Regions from separate parts of the Homo sapiens genome. Here region 2 is linked to region 1. The links come from fine-mapping of genetic effects on gene expression. A gene starts in region 1. The other region holds a variant in brackets. All regions are shown on one strand. Distances are between the middles of the regions.

Region 1 (8,342 bases):
TGGTTAATGGGTAGAAAATTGCCCTTTGGGTAGAAGGAATAAGTTTTAGTATTCCATAGCACACTAGAATGACAATAGTTAATAATTTAGTATAGATTTCAAAACAGCCAGAGGAGTGGATTTTGAATGTTCAACACAATGAAATGATAAATATTTGAGGTGACAGATTATCTCAAATTGATTACCCTGATTTTATCATTACCAGTTGTATACATGTATGGAAATATTGCCTGCACCCTCTAAATATGTACAATTAATATGTGCCAATTTTTAAAAAAAGGATTAGGCATGTGTTTATGAATACAATCAGCCATCTCAGCAGAAGCCAGGAATAGAGATGGGGCTATGCAGGAAAGACTCACAGGAATCCCTTTTATCTGATAGTTTGGACCCCATGAATTGCATCAGAGACCAACATGCTTTTTGAGAATTTTATTAGCAGCAGAAATGAACAGAGTTAGGATGACATGAAAGAAGGTAGCTGGACTTCCGGGATTCCAGAGGATGGCCCAATACAGCTATTTAGCTGCAAACGTGCATTATCCTTAAAGAAAAGGGAGAACATACCCTAAGGTTGTTCAGAGGTTGGCAGGGATACCACTGCCACCACAAGCCCAAAAGACACAGATCCAGGAGGTTAGGCTGCCTCTTCCTTGGTTCCAGAGGGCAGAGCCAGCCCATTGGTTTCAGAAGGCCAGGGTGCCTCTAACCCAGGACTGAGGGATTAGGGCTGCTGTCCATTGAGTCAAAAAGGATTATTCTGAGCCTTAAATCAAGTGTAATTTGCCCTGCTAGGTTTTAGACTTATTTGTGACTCATAACACTTTTATTCTGATTTCTCCCTTTTTGAGTGGGAATGCCTATCCTGTGCCTGTTCTACCATTATATTTTGGTCACAGGTAGCTTGTCTGGTTTCACAGGTTTATAGATGGAGGGAAATTTTGCCTCAGGATGGATTCATACCAGAGTGTCACATAAACGATTTAGATATTACATTTAGATGAGATTTTGTATTTACAGTTAACCCCTGGAATTGGGGATGCTTGTATTTTGCATGTGGGAAGGACTAGACTTTAGGGAGCCAGAAGGCAGGGTGTTATGAGCTGAATTGTGTCTCCTTTCAGTAAACTCATATGTTGAAGTCCTAAACCCTAGTATCTCAGAGTAATATGACTGTATTTGGAGATAAGGTCTTCAAAGAGGTTAATTAAGTTAAAATGAAGTTATTAGGATGGCACTCAATCTAATACAACAGGTGTCCATATAAGAAAAGACACAAGGAGAAGATAATGTCCAAGCCAAGGAGAGAGGCCTCAAAAGGAATCAACCTTGCCACACCTTAACTTGAACATCTAGCTTCCAGAATTGAGAAAATAGGTTTCTGTATTGAGACCATCCAGTCTGTGGTATTTTGTTATTACAGCCTAGAAAATGAGTATATTTTCATACATCATCTTCCACAAATGCATTCTTGTACTTCATTTTTTGTGACCCCTTTCATTGTTTCCTCAGAGACTACTGTTTAGGAAGCATCTCTATCTCTCTCTATATTAGTTATCTTTGAAACAATCTCCAAGCATTTGTCAGGTGTGGTGTAGAAGGTTGGAAGCTGTGCAGGAGACAAGAGTATTGCAAGAACCTACACTCTTGCTTCCCCTTATATTCCATCACTGCTCCCATGAATCCCTCAGACACAAAGACAAATGCCTCATGTAGTCAACACCTCTTGATTATTTTGTCTGAGAATAGTTGGGGCAGGTGGGCAGCTAAAAAATAAACACTAAGTTGTAACCACATATAAACAAACATGGAAAAGAGCATGAATTTTAAAAGGTATTTCCAACAAGAGAAATCTTATTTTCCCATTGACTTATACGGGGAATAACATCATCCTTAAGGTCATATCTATCCCCAGTGAAGAAATAATTTTGTTCCCAGAACAAGTCCAGTAGTATAAGGATCCCATAGACAGGTAATATATCAACATAACATTAGCACAGCCAGGATTAGTCACAAATAGTAAAAGGAAAATTACCTTCTCTATGAGCTCATTTGAGTTTAGCACACAATCAAAACATGAATAAGAAATATGAGTAGCCTACAGGCACATATAATTTTATACCCATATAGATGGGTATATAGATTAGGATAAAGGAAACTTGATGCAGTTATCTAGGCCTAGATGCAATACTTCTAATCACTCAAAAACTAGGTCATCCCAACATTCCAAGCTAGGACACAGAGGTGCACATCATCCTTAAAGTAGGATCAATGCTTGAGTATAGGATCCTGTTCTGCCTAGCAACCCTCACAACACCTTCCCACCTACGTGTTCCTCAAGCAAGGAGTCTTGGTGTTATCTTTGATTTCTTTTTCTCTCACAGCCTGGAGCTAATTTTTCAGGAATTCCCACTGGCACTTAAAAAATAGATATAAAATCTGATACATCTGATTTCTCTCCATATATATGATTAACACATTGATTTGGAAACACCATCTTCTCTCTGGATGCCTACAATAGCATCTGTAATCCTTTCTCTGCTTTCATCCTCATCATCTTGTGCTGTTCCCATTAAGTCAGAAGCAATATCTAAAAAACATATGTCAAATAATGTCAATTCACTGCTCAACCTTGGCTTTTATTCCGAGAGAAATTATGAACCTTTGCAAAGTGAAATCCTTACATGGCTGATATGGTTTGGCTCTGTGTCCACACCCAAATCTCCTCTCGAATTGTAATCCCCACATGTCAGAAGAGGGGACCTGGTGAGAGGTGATAGGATCATGGGGGCAGATTTCCCCCTTGATGTTCTGTTTAAAAGCGTATGGCCCCGCCCCCATTCCCTTTTTCCTGCTCCGCTGTGGTAAGACCTGCTTGCTTCCCCTTCATCTTCTGCCATGACTAAGTTTCCTGAGGCCTCCCAGCCATGCTTCTGTACAGCCTGCAGGAACTGTGAGTCAGTCAAACCTCTTTTCTCCATAAAAGTACCCAGTCTCAGGTAGTTCTTCATAGCAGTGTGAGAACAGACTGATACAAAGGCCTACAATGTTCTGTGTGATCACAGCTAACTGGAAAAAAAAAAAAAGAAAGCAGCACCCAGGTATGGGTAGGGCACATTATATTCACAGGATCAACAATAAGACTGATATTAATAGATACTTGACTTCAAAAAAAGCAAGTGAAGGCAGAATACAATTAATATACTAAAGTGGATGAAAGAAGAATTGCCCATTTAAAAACCTATTCAAATTGAAATAGAATTTTAGACAGAGGCCCGGGAGGTGAGTCATCTTTCACAAACAAAGATGACTAAGATAATTTTACAAATGAGCAAAAGTTGATGGAATGTGTCACTATATGGCCTGTAATAAAAGCAAAAATAAAAGTAGTTTTTCATGCAGAAAAAAAATGATCCAGATGGAAACATGAAAAACCTGGAGGGAATGAAGAACACCAAAACAAAGATGCATATGAATGTAAAAGAATCTAGATTTTACAAAAGAAAAGATAGGGTGGGGAGGATGTCAATGAATTAAACAGTCTAAGTGTTCCAATATTCCAGCAGTTATCTCCAGCATGGTTTGAGCCAATGGCCCCACTGCCCACTCCCCCACTCCATGTGCTTCTTATCCTGCTCCTATGATGTCAGGATTGCCCATTCAGAATGGAGTTGGGGGCAAATTAAGGTGCTTTGTTCACAAAAACACTGTCTATTCTATCTGGCTCTTGTCTGGCTTTTATCTGGCTTTTGCCATATTAGGTTTTGGTGAGGTGCTTTTCATACAGGCTGTATCCCCTTGGCCTAGCTGTACATTGTTAAAACTATGTAGGAATTCCACTTTATCCCAGCATCCCAAAAGATCAGACTTATCATGGAGGAGTGCTGAGTCCACACCCTTGAGGGCCAACTATTACAGAAGGGGAAGTTAGTTCCAGGGTACCTGTGTGGGAAGGGAGTGAGATGACTGAGTTACAGCGTTCTGAGATTGCTTTTAAAAATTATGGGGAATTAGGGTAGACAAAATCCATGGAGAACTCTAGTGAAAAGCATCTTCTCAGGTCCTTGAAAAATAGCACACATTAAGTCAGCTGTAGGTAGAAAGATCACTCTTTATCATTTATAGATGATTGGTAATTTCCTAATTATTAATAAGGAATCACATTCATAGTGGCCTCTTGTTTATCTACTTAGATCCTCCTATCCTTGTGAGTTAGAAAATATTGTAAAAGTTATCTCTACCTTAGAGATAAGAAAAATAGATCAGGGATCAGACAGGTGCCAGATCAAGTTCACGAGCTGGTTATTAATGCATATCTCAGGCCAATATGAAATATGAATGCAAAATAAAATGCCTAATGGATGACCTTGGCCTGGTCAGGCTGGACTCCCTGCCCTTTCAAGTCAGTTCTGACAGGAGTTGCCTGCAGTGTATATTTTCTGATGAGGCTGGCTTTCTTTGAAGACACTGTAAGGATAAAGAGTAAGGAGAGGCACAGCAAACACCAAGACACAAGCCAGCTCCACCTGAAAGTCTCACAGCCTCTGGCAAGTAGGGCATGACCCCTGGTAGGCACAACTCAGTGCCACTAGCTGGGGAGGAGGCATGGGTTGTAGGAAACAAGGATACAGTCCCCTTGGGTCAGGGGAAGTCCCCTTGCATCAACCCAGAGAGAGGAGGCCAGAGATGTCTCTGAGGACTCTGCTCAAGTGCAGCAGTTTCTGCTTCCACAGCCTTCTGGGAGAAGGGCAGAGGTTGGTGAGGATTAAAGCCAGCTGCTCGCTTCCCAGCTTCCTCCTTCTAAGACTCCTTAGACTGAAAGAGGAAGGCGGCACTGGTGCTGCATGAAGCTAATGAAAAGGGCCCAGGATTGTAAGTCAGACTGAGGACTGTGGATACAGCTGCAACTTAGGGAAATAGAAAACAAGTGATGTTATTGGGGTGAGCAGGAAGGTGGGAGTGAGCTGGAAGGTGGGGGCACTGTCAATTTCTTCCCATAGCCATTCCTGATCTTAGGCATCAGCTCTCCAACCCTGTTATTGCTTCTACTCTGGTCCTTCAATAGAGGGAACAGAAGTCTCGATAGTCCCACCCAACTGTTTGGTACACAAACTCCAGATGCTCTCCCCACCACAGAGGATGCCTGCTTCCGTCCTATGCCAAACACTGTGGGCCATCTCCAAGAAGTCTTAGTTGATTATTCCAGTTTGGATCTGTCACTTCTCACCTCCTGTCATTGCTTTTTCTAACCCCTGGCAAATGCCCCATCCCAGTTAAAGGGCTTCTGCATTAGTCAAGAGGAAGAAAACGAGGCCTGAACTAGAAAGATGGCAGGGAAAGGTAAGAAATACCTTATCTTTGAGGTTCTTCTACCAGAAGCAGTCCTGAAGTATCTTGATTATGTGATTATCCTTCCTTGTCTGGTTCTAAGTTTTTCAGATATGTCATTCTGATATCCTTTTAAGATAAAGGTATAGGCAACCAAATAGATTCAGTATTAATTGAGTCCATTCTGGGTACAGAGGCCTTTTTTAAGGAGAAATAGAAGATAAATCCTTTGAGCATGGACATCTTAGTTCTGAAAACAATGAACAGTCTGGACAAAACTTGCACTACAGAGGAGGTCTTAGTTTCTGGATATTAGGGGAAGAAGACTGGCTCCATTCACACTCCTACTCAGAGCACTTCATTCTGAGGAGTTGATTTTAGATGAACTTCAAAGGAAGTAAGATTTATGAACTATTAGACACCCTGTCTTTTCAGGAAGAAATCTGATAGAAGAGATGCCTTTTTTTCTTGTATGAAGATGGGTAGACAGCTCACAGGGTGGTTAGTGATGTTTAAAAGTTGAATGGAGGAATCTAGGGGGACATGGAGACTCAAAGTAAAACATGTGGGTTTTGTGGAAAATACATATTGAGATAAGGTAAAGATGCAGCAGGTTTGTGGGATTATTTCACAGTATTTTAGAAGAGTTTCTTAGACGCCAGGCATGTTTCTAGGTACTGATATGTACTTGAAAATAAAAATGTCTGTTGTCATAAGAGCTTGTTCCTGACAAAAATGCACAAACATTATGAATATTTAAAATAGTATTTTCCATTAAGAAGAGAATTTTATTCTGATGCAGGTAACAAAGTATTGTAATCGGGATGCTTAGAACCTCCATTCTGGATGCATTTTAAATGAGAAGATAACCCAAATTCTGAGCTTAAATCACATGAGGGGAGTAGTATTCTGAGAAATATGTCTTCCAATAATCTAGTAGTCTGTTTTATTTAGTGAAATGTTCCACACCTATGTATGTTAGAGGCTGGGTTTACAGAAGGAAAATAGGTAGAGTTTCTTAACTCCAGTCCCTTCACTTCATGATATGGTGGGTAATTGTTGAAGGATAAATATTGGAGAACAAAGTGGAACTTTGTGTACTTGTTAGGATTCTTTTGTAGCAGTAGTTGCTGGGAGATGCTGTGGCTTGAACAAGGGTGATGGTGTTGGAAGGGTGGAAGTGTTGGAAACGCAATGGGCAACGTGGAGATTTACTATGTAGGATGATCCAGTGTGCTTGCTGATGATTAAATATGATGCAGGAAGAAAAGAGAAGAATCCAGGATGACTTGATTCTAGGTTGAGCAACTGGTTGGGCAGGATGTTACGTTCTGAGATATGGGCAGCACAAGAAGAGAAGTAGTCATGATTTCTGCCTCAGGCATGGCAGGTTTGACATATCTGTGAGGAAGATATGTGGGGATATCGAGTATGGAGTTGGATATCCTAGTCTGGAGCTTACAAGGAATGTAAGGTATGTAAATTTGTGTTTGTTTCAGGATATGTTTATATTCTCAATGATCAACCAGCAGACCACCTAGAAAGATGCAATATTCACGGTCTTTTCAGGAGCAGTATTCTCTTTCTTCGTCTAAGTTTCAACTTTTCCCCTACTACTGGATAATTTGCTTCAGCTAAAGACATGATACTTCTGTTCTAAAACACACAGACACACACACACACACACACACACACACACACACACAGTTGACTTCGCTTTCCATTTTAGCCAGTGCCCTATTTACTTGCTGTCCTTTGCTTCCAAATTCCTCAAAAAAGTTAGCCATGTTAACAAACTTCAATTCCCCTCTTATCTATTCTAACTCAGTCAAGTCAGGCTTTGCCTGTCTCTCTTCTAGCAAAATTGCTTTTATCAAGGTATCCAATCCTCTTGTGCAATTCTAAACACAAGGCCAATTGTGTTTTCAAGTTCTTTGACTCATCAGTAGCATTTTACATGGTAATAATCCACTTGTTAGTAAACTATATTCTATATACTAAGATAGTACATTATTTGGGGATGTTTCTATCTTAATAGTTTCCACTGTCAGTTTCCCTTGCGAATATCTCAGTGTGCTCCAACTCTTCTCCCATCCATTCTTAATGTTGGGATTCAGTTCTGGGTTCTCTAGTTCTCTTTTCTGTGAACATTTACTGTCTGGGCGATCTCAAACAGTTTTGTGGCTTTAAATATGATTTATTTTCTATACGTATTACCATATTCACTTGAATTTCTGATATCTCAAACTCACCATGTTCAAAAATTGAAGTCTCGAGCTCCTCCTTTCATGCTTTCCCCGTCTCAGTTGGGAGCAGCTCCTATCAGTGGTTTATGCCAAAAATCAGGGTGTCATCTTCGACTCCCTGTTGTCTCACTTCCTATATCTAACCTGTCAAAAATGCCACTGACACATTTTAAAAATATATCCCCAATCCTATTACTTCCCACTACATACACTGCTACCTTGATTCTGAGCCAATGTTCTCCCTTCCTTGGATTCCTGCAATAGTCTCCAGGTACTTTCCCCCAATTCTACCCTTCCCTCTTTGTGCTATTCTCCATCATAGATGCCAGGGAAAACTTTAAAAGTATAAGTCACATACATCTCCTCTCTGCTGAAAACAATGTCCTTGATTCTGAGAGAAATGGGGAACTTTTGCAAAGTCCACAAAGGCCTGTGGGGCCCTGTGTGATTTGGCCCCACTGTTCTGACCTGATTCTCCTGCTCATTTGCTTCATCCTACCTGTGCTGGCTGCCTGCTGATATTTGAATAACAGGTGTTTTTATGTCTTGGGGCATTTTCTCTGGCTGTTCCATTTTCTTAGACTGTTCCTTTCCCCTGGGTGACTCCTATATTCCAAATCTATTATGGTCTTCTCATGTCCTGTCATCTCCCCTTTTTGTTGTAGGCATTGTTGTGGGAACCATTCGAGTGCAGGTGTAGGTTGATAGCACCTTACTCAGCTGTATCCCACCTCCCACAGTTTCTCTGCTTTATTGCATGGGCACCTC
Region 2 (8,342 bases), 28 kb before region 1:
ACCAAGCAAATCCGTGAGAGCATCTTGGGAGTATTCCCAAGAAAGGATATGTAGAGGGTGAGGTGGAGAAAGAATGGGTTGGCTTGTCTGCTGGAGTTGGAGACAGGCTATGGTAGAATGTGCACGGCTGCCAGGATCTTCATGTTTAGTTTTTTCTTGGAAAAAAAAAAAATGATGTCCTGAAACTCAGAGCCACCAGTCTGTTCAGGACTCATGGGTCTGTGTCCTCTGGTAGCCTGTGGATTGAATGTGCTGACTGTGCTGTCTTCTCACAGTGCCCTCACCCCTATCAGTAACTTGACAGAGACTTGACCCATGGGTCTCCAGGTGACTTCACCGAAAGACACAAAGATGCTTCCAACTTCATTTGCTGAAGAGAAGACTTTGAAAATCTGAGTTTCTTTTCTTAGTCATTGGGAATTTGGTGAACTATCTACTCAGGACCTGGGTGAGGGCCAACAGTATATCTGACATAGGAATCCTTCATTCATTCTGACTGGTGGTGTCCAGCTTCTGATGAAACACTCAGTGTTAGGAAGTTTGAAACATTCCAGGGCTGCAGGTTCTGAGTAAGACACCTATGCTTGCTAGAAAATCATTTTTTCACCTAAGCCAGTATGTGTATTCTTTTGCTTATATTTACCAATCCATCCTTATGTCCAATTCCTTTTATTAAGTACTTTGAATAAGACATGTCCTCTGGCTTTATGTTTCATGCAACTCTTTCTTTGCACATAGATGTATCTTATGTTTTCAAGAATGAGAATGGCTCATTTATTTACTAATTCCACCAAATCTGTGATAGGGGATGGGGACACATATACTAAATTAGGGGTGTCAGACTTGTGTATTTGTCCTAAGACAGAGAAGGAAATGATAATTATGATAGATTCTGTTCTCTGAAATTTCCATCCCAAGGCCCAGCATAATAAAAGAAGAGCAAGACCAAGCAGATAGGAGGCAAGAATATTATGTTTCTCTTTTCCTGTCTCATGTGAACTTACCTACTATATAATTCTCTATTAATCCTGACAACACAGCTAAGCTTTTCACACAAGCCCTGTATAAATACATTGTTCTGCTGTTATCTTCTGACCCACTTGTTTCCTCAGATATTATTGCTTAGAAATTATATATCTCTTTTGCTATCACTGTATCTTTCTCTATTTACCTGTCTATATTATTTAGCCTTGAAAGATAATTTCCAAGCCTATTTCAGGTGGGGTGTAGAAGGTTGGAAGCTGTCCAGGAGGGAAGAGTATAGCAAGAACCTAGAGTTTTACTTCCCCTTATATTCCACCTCTGCTCTTATAATTCCCTTTGACACAAAAACAAATACCCCAGAGAAATAATGTATTACATAAAAAATTGCTACATGCTAGATATATATATTTTTGGAGTATATGTGATATTCTGATATATTCATATAATAGATAATGATCAAATCAGGATAATTGGAATATCCATGACCTTAAATGTTTCTTTTATGCTAGGAACATTAAAATTATTCTCTTCTAGCTATTTTGATATATACAGTAGATTGTTTTCTATAGTCCCTACTGATTTCTTGAACACTACATCTTGTTATTTTTTATATCTAGCTGTATTTTTATACTCAATTAATCTCTTATCCTCCCTGCCTCCCTTCCCAGCCCCCAATAACCACCAATCTGCTCTCTATTTTCATGAGCTGTACTTAGCATCCACATGAGTGAGAAATACAATAATTGTCTTTCTGTACCTGGCTTGTTTCACTTAACTTAATGACCTACAGTTTCATCCACGTTGCTGCAAGTGACAGGATTTCATTCTTTCTTATGACTAATATTCCATGTGTATCATATTTTTCTTTATCCATTCAGATATTAATAGCACTTACATTGATTCCATGTTTTGGCTATTGTGTCTAGTACTAAATATAGGAATACAGATATCTCTTTGACATATTGATTCCTTTCTTTTGAATAAATACCTAGTAGTGGGATTACTAAATCTCATGGTAGTTATATTTTTAGTATTTTGAGGAACTTCCATACTGTTTTTCAGAGTGGTTGTATTAATTTGCATTCCCTCCAGAATTGTTGAGGACTAGATATGCTAATGGCAGCACAAGGAAGACTTTGTTCAGCCTTAGATGAAAAGTATTGCTTTTGGGTAAACCAACTGTGAAAAGTACAGGACAACATCACACGACTTCCAAATCAAGCCTCCATTTATTATGGGAACTTGCCTCTCAGGGTTGGTTAGATAGGGAAGGAGCCTGGAAATGGTTCTCCTGGGTTCTTTCCTTTTTAGGACCACTTGTTATTCTCCTAGTTTTGCACCTTTTTGGTTCAGGTCTTCTAAATTCTAAACCCAATTTGTCTCCTCTCACCCCCAGGCCATCAAGCTCCAGATGGTCCTCCGTGAGGTATACTGTCCTCTCAATATTCAAGAGGTACCCTTCTACAGGGAACCGCTAGACTGCTCATCAGTGGACAGAAAGTAGGCAAAATTCTGCCCCTGGACCTGGCTGGATACCACTTTTGCTAAGCCACTGAGTCACCCTCCTGCCCTGACAGCAAGAGGCCAAGACCCACAGAACCACCACCACCACCCCTCTGTCAGCAGAAAGCAGTTACAAAAGACTGACCTTCATCCATTTTCCTCCAAAGATTTGGGGTCTTGGGCTCTTGAGTGGGGGGAAACATTACAGGTAGTTAGACAGGCATGAGTGGGGCAGGAGGGGGCCCTACCACCTACCCACCAGGAATGTCTGACTATAGTCAAGTGATGGTTGGGCAGTTACCACACTGCCCCTCTAAAAATGATAACTTGGCCATCAGTGCCAGGGAGAGACAATCTCCCGATGGTCCAAGCTGCCACACTAAAGTGTTAATTGAATTCAGGTACCTAAGAGAGGCAACTTCCCAAACAGATGAAAATACTTGAGATTGGTAATCAGTTTCCAGTAAAATCACAGGAAATGAGCAAGTGAGCCTGGGCATGTTCATTAAAAAACAAAGTGGTGGAGTATGACCTTCCAGAGGCATTCTGTCAGAAAACTGAAGAAAGCCTCAGATGGGCATGCGTACAACTTCTTAAACACACTGCGCATGCTCACTTCCTAAGGGTAAGGAGGGCACTGTGCATTCAGGCAGCCCACCCTAAGGGAAGAATCATGGGAAAGGGGTGCAAGACCCTGGAAGTGGGCCATCTTATAAAGTCCCAGGATCAAGATTAAGTGGGGCACTTGTCCTTCAAGTCGCCTGCTTGGGTCTCTTCCAAGTGTACTTTCCTTTCTTTCCTGCTCTAAGGCTATTTTTTTTTTTTTTTTTTTTTTTTTTTTTTTTTTTTTTTGAGATGGAGTCTCTCTCTGTAACCCAGGCTGGAGTGCAATGGCATGACCTCGCTCATTATAACTACCGCTTCCTGGTTTCAAGCTATTCTTCAGTCGCAGCCTCCCAAGTAGCTGGGACTACAGGTGCCTACCACCATGCCTGGCTAATTTTTCTATTTTTAGTAGAGACGGGGTTTCACTTTGTTGGTCAGGCTCATCTCGAACTTCTGACATCAGCTGATCCACCCACCTCAGCCTCCCAAAATGCTGGGATTACAGGTGTGAGCCACTGTACCTGGTGCCTGCTCTAAAGCTTTTTAATAAACTTCCACTCCTGTTCTGAGACTTGCCTTGGTCTCTTTTTCTGCCTCATGACCCTCAAAATTCTTTTTTCTGAGGAGGCAAGAATTGAGGTTGCTGCAAACCTGTACAGATTCACTGCTGATAACTTGGATACCTTATATACGCATAACAGAAGCAGATATGGGACTAGATATTGGTGTTAGAACAACTAAGTTCCTCTTCAAAACTTAACTTTCTTGTTATAAGTTGTAAGATTGTAAATTAGCCCTTCTCCCTGCTTTGGCCTTCAAAGTCCTCATCTCACTACCTTATTTGGAAGAAGTTTCAAACTTCCTTTTTCTCTCTGTTCTGTGACCAACCCTTCCCTCCTTGCTGCACCCAGATATGCCTAGACATGCCTTCCCTCCTGCCTAGTTAATAACAGTCTCTCCCTCCCCTCCTCCCTTTGCAAATTGTGCATTTACTCCATTTGGAAAAGTTTAAGTCTTTTACCCTATTTGGAGAAGTTTAAGTCTTAGCCAATCTGGATAGCTTAGATTGTGAGGTCCAACTGCAGCCAATGGGGAAAGGACACAGAAACAGGAATTAGGGATAAAAACCCCTTTTCTCCTTTGTTTGGTGTGCTCTTGCAATCGTGGCTGATGCAGGTAGCACTGTTCTGCAGAAGTAAATTGCCATTCTGAGACAACTTTTTGCCTGAGTGCTGGTTCTTCTTTGTGGCATCAAGCATTTGTTTCTAACAATTTGGGGGCTCATCAGGGATCCCATTCTCCTCTGGGGAAGGGTCTGCAAACCCCTGTCATGAGGAGATGCATCCCGCTGCCTCATTGCAGTGGCCTCAGGAATAAGGAATTGAGCCCCACCCAGCGTGATGAATAAAACCAGGACTCTCAGCAACATGGGAGGAAAAGGCCTACAAATACTGCAGTGACCAGGTAACTGTGCACAGACTGTGGTAAGAAAAACCATAGGGGCAGTAAAGTATTTCTTGGTGGTCAGGGCATCCTGGAGGTTGAAAAGGTGTGGGTGAGCTGCACAATTGAGTGCGAAGCCAGTGTGGTCCTGATCTGCAGTTCTGTGGTCACCTCATATGGCTTACGCTGGATTCCTGTCGTGGGGTTTACATCAACATGCCAATGCTAAGAGGGACCTAAATTCACTCTGTGGAAGCAGCCAGAGGTGGATGAAGCAAAAGCAAAGGAGTGCAAGAAACCTCCAGTAAGGGGGTTGAGCCTCTAGAGTAGAGGGTACAAGAAATCTCTAGTAAGAGATGTTGACCCCCCACTTAGGGGTCACACTCAGGAAACACCTAAAGCTTCTAGGATGGGAAATAGCCCAAGCAAGACAGGATAAAAAGGAAAAGATGGGCAATAAAATACACTCAGATAGCCCTCTAGGTCTCGTGTTAAAATATTGGAAGGATAAGGAAAGAACTAAACAGAAGAAAAAGCAGCAAATGATAAAATATTGATTTTTTATTTGGACCAAAGAACCTATCCTCAAACCTTCAAGTCTTCTAGCCAAAGTTTGGGTCTAGTGAGGAATGGATTTGTCAACTTTTAATAGAGTATGTCAATAACAAAAGTCCTATCTCCCTGGAGGAAATAGACTATGCC[T/C]TGTGTTGGTGGCAGAGGCCTGTCATCCTCTAGTCCATAAAACTACAGGACACAAGCCAGAAACTACTTCCTCTCAAGAAATTAATATCCCTCACCCCAAAAGTGTAACACGTGGGCTGCCTTAGACCAACTTCCCCCACCAAACTTCCTTCCCCCTCCTACAGACCAACTTCCTCCTCCAAACATTACTAACTTCCCTCCCCCTCCAGCAGTTGCAACTGCCTCAAACTCTTCCCCAACTCACATTGTCATTTCCCTCCCTTATGACCCTGACTCTTGGGGCTGTCCCCAGCCCTCCCTTAGGAAGGCTTCAACATGAGATAGAACAATGTAAGAAGGATATCCAAACTTTCCTTTCCCCACTACCTCTAGAGGATTGGCTGCAAACCTTTTTCCCTTAAGGGAAGTTCCTCTAGGAGGAGGGGGCATTGGCTTTGTGAATGTCCCCTTAACCAGTTCAGAAGTCCAAAGCCTGAAAAGGGAACTAAAACCACTCTTAGATGATCCCTATGGAGTAGCAGATCAAATTGATCAATTCTTAGGCCCCCACTTGTATACTTGGGCCGAGTTAATGTACATCCTAGGCATCCTCTTTTCGGAAGAGGAAAGAAGCATTATCTGTAGGGCTGCTATGACCTTTTGGGAGCGTGAGAACCCCCCGGTCAAAACATCCCTGCAGCTGAACAGAAATTCCCTCCTCAAGATCCCCAATGGAATAACAATATAGCCTATTGAAGAAATATGAGAGACCTAAGGGAAATAATTAAAGGAATTAGAGAATTGGTGCCCTGCACCCAGAATATTACTAAAGCCTTTAATACACAACAGGGAAAAGATGAAGGGCCCATGGAATTCCTCAACAGACTTAAGGAACAGATGAAGAAATATGCAGGTTTAGATGTGGAGGGCCCACCTGGACAAGGGATGTTAAAGCTCCACTTTGTCAGCAATAGCTGGCCAGGCATCACAAAGGAATTACAGAAGACAGAAAATTGGAAAGACCATTCCATAGAGGAACTTTTAAGAGAGGCCCAAAAGGTATGTGTACGGAGGGATGAAGAAAAGCAAAAGCAAAACGCAAAAATTATGTTGTCCACCTTACAACTCCCTAACAGGCAGCCCAGGGAAATAGAACTTACAAATCTTCTAAGTCCCTGGCTGTCAGACCCTACACAGAAGGAAAAGGGATCAAGCCAGACAGCCATGAAATAGAGAAAAGAAGCAAAATAAATGTTTCAAATGTGGAAAAATAGGTCATATTAAAAGAGAATGCCCTGAATGGGAAAAAGAAAAGGAAGTTATTCCCCTTATGGCTTTTGAGGAAGATTAGGAGGGTCAGGGGCTCTGTCTTTTCTATATTGAGTTCCACCAAGAGCCCTTGATAAATTTAGAGGAGGGACCCAAATTCAAGCTTATTACCTTTTTAATTGACTCAGGGGCAGCTTCCTCCTCTGTTTATCATTCCCCATCTGGTGTAATTTGTTCACAAGAAGAACTCCTTATTTCAGGAGTGAAGGGAGAAGGATTTAAAGCAAAACCTTTAGAGGAAACAAAAGTCATATATAAAAATAGATCAGCTAATATACAATTTTTGTTAATACCAGAGGAAGGAACTAACCTAATAGGAAGAGATTTAATGCTAGAATTAGGCTTAGGCCTCTATGTTAACCAGGGAAAATTTCTCACCTCTCTAAACTTACTCACTACTATAGATGAAGAGTATATCCATCCTAATACCTGGTCAAAAGAAGGAAATCAAGGAAAATTATTTGTTTCCTCAATAAAGGTCAAATTAAAAACTCTTGGGGAAGTAGTAAGAAAACAACACCCTATTCCTTTAAAAGCTAGGATAGGTTTAAAACCTATAATTGAAAGCCTTGTTCATGATAGACATCTTGAACCCTGTATACCCCCTTATAATACCACAATATTACCTGTAAAGAAGCCAGATGGGTCATACTGGCTAGTGTAAGACCTCCGGGCTATTAATCAAGTAGTTCAAACTACATACCCTGCTGCTCCCAATCCTTACACCATTAACAGCAAAATCCCACCTAACTATGAATGGTTCACTGTAAAACCTGAAAGGTGCCTTCTGGACTTGCCCTTTAGTGGAGGACAGCTGGGACTTGTTTGCCTTTGAGTGGGAAGACCCCCGATCTAGTTTAAAACAACAGTACCCATGGACAGTTTTACCCCAAGTGTTTACAGACTCTCCAAATCCTTTTGGTCAAAATTTAAAATAAGTCATAGAAAAATTTTCCTTGCCCTCATGCATATGCCTACTCCAGTACATGGATGGCCTGCTTATTTCAGGGGAAAACAAAGAATGGGTAACAGCATTTTCAATCAACTTCCTTAATTTTCTAAGAGTAGAAGAATTAAGAGTCTCAAAAAGTAAACTTCAGTTTGTAGAGCCTGAAGTAAAGTACTTAGGAATTTTAATCAGCAAAGGCAAATGGAGGATTGGGTTTGAACGAATTGAAGGTATTATATCCCTACTTCTGCCAGAAACAAAAGAGGAGCTTAGAACGTTCTTAGGCTTAGTTGGATACTGTTGCCTATGGGTTGACTCTTATGCCCTAGAAAGAAAACTGCTATACCAAAAACTCAATTCAGAGGGAGTCGCCCCCACTTATCTGGACCCAACCAGAAATGCGACAGATAGAAAAATTAAAACATTTACTAGTAACTGCCCCTGTTCTCATTCTACCCTCCCTAGAGCAGCCATTTCATCTTTTCGTCAGTGTAAACAAGGGAGTGGCTTTAGGGGTACTCACCCAAGATCATGGGGGCCACCAGCAGCCCATAGCCTTTTTGTCAAAAATTCTAGACCCAGTAACCCATGGATGGCCTGCATGTGTCCAATCTGTAGCAGCAACTGCCTTGCTAACAGAAGAAAGCGGAAAATTAACCTTTGGGGGAAACCTCATTGTTAGCACACCTCACCAAGTCAGAACTATTCTCAACCAAAAGGCAGGAAGATGGCTTACTCAATAATTTTAAAATATGAAGCTATCCCACCATTAGAAAGGATGACCTAGCACTAACCACTAAGAATTCCCTAAATCCCATTGCTTTCCTAATAGGAAATCCAAACCCAG

Evidence for each region. PIP is the estimated chance that this variant, and not a neighbour inherited with it, causes the effect.
Region 2: its variant is the best candidate, but not a certain one, in a credible set for the expression of OR52K1 in blood mononuclear cells (TOPMed, PIP 0.81).

What each region holds. Positions count from the first base shown.
Region 1 is chr11:4,477,837-4,486,178 of GRCh38, forward strand. It overlaps OR52K1 (olfactory receptor family 52 subfamily K member 1), which reads left to right and starts at 4,810. Exons shown (of 2, transcript NM_001005171.3): 1 at 4,810-5,340.
Region 2 is chr11:4,450,231-4,458,572 of GRCh38, forward strand. It overlaps OR52K2 (olfactory receptor family 52 subfamily K member 2), which reads left to right. Exons shown (of 1, transcript NM_001005172.2): 1 at 1-131. The coding sequence ends at 54. Among named protein-coding and RNA genes, the nearest start is that of OR52K2, 5.1 kb to the left of the region's middle. The variant T/C (reference allele first, on the strand shown) is at 5,239.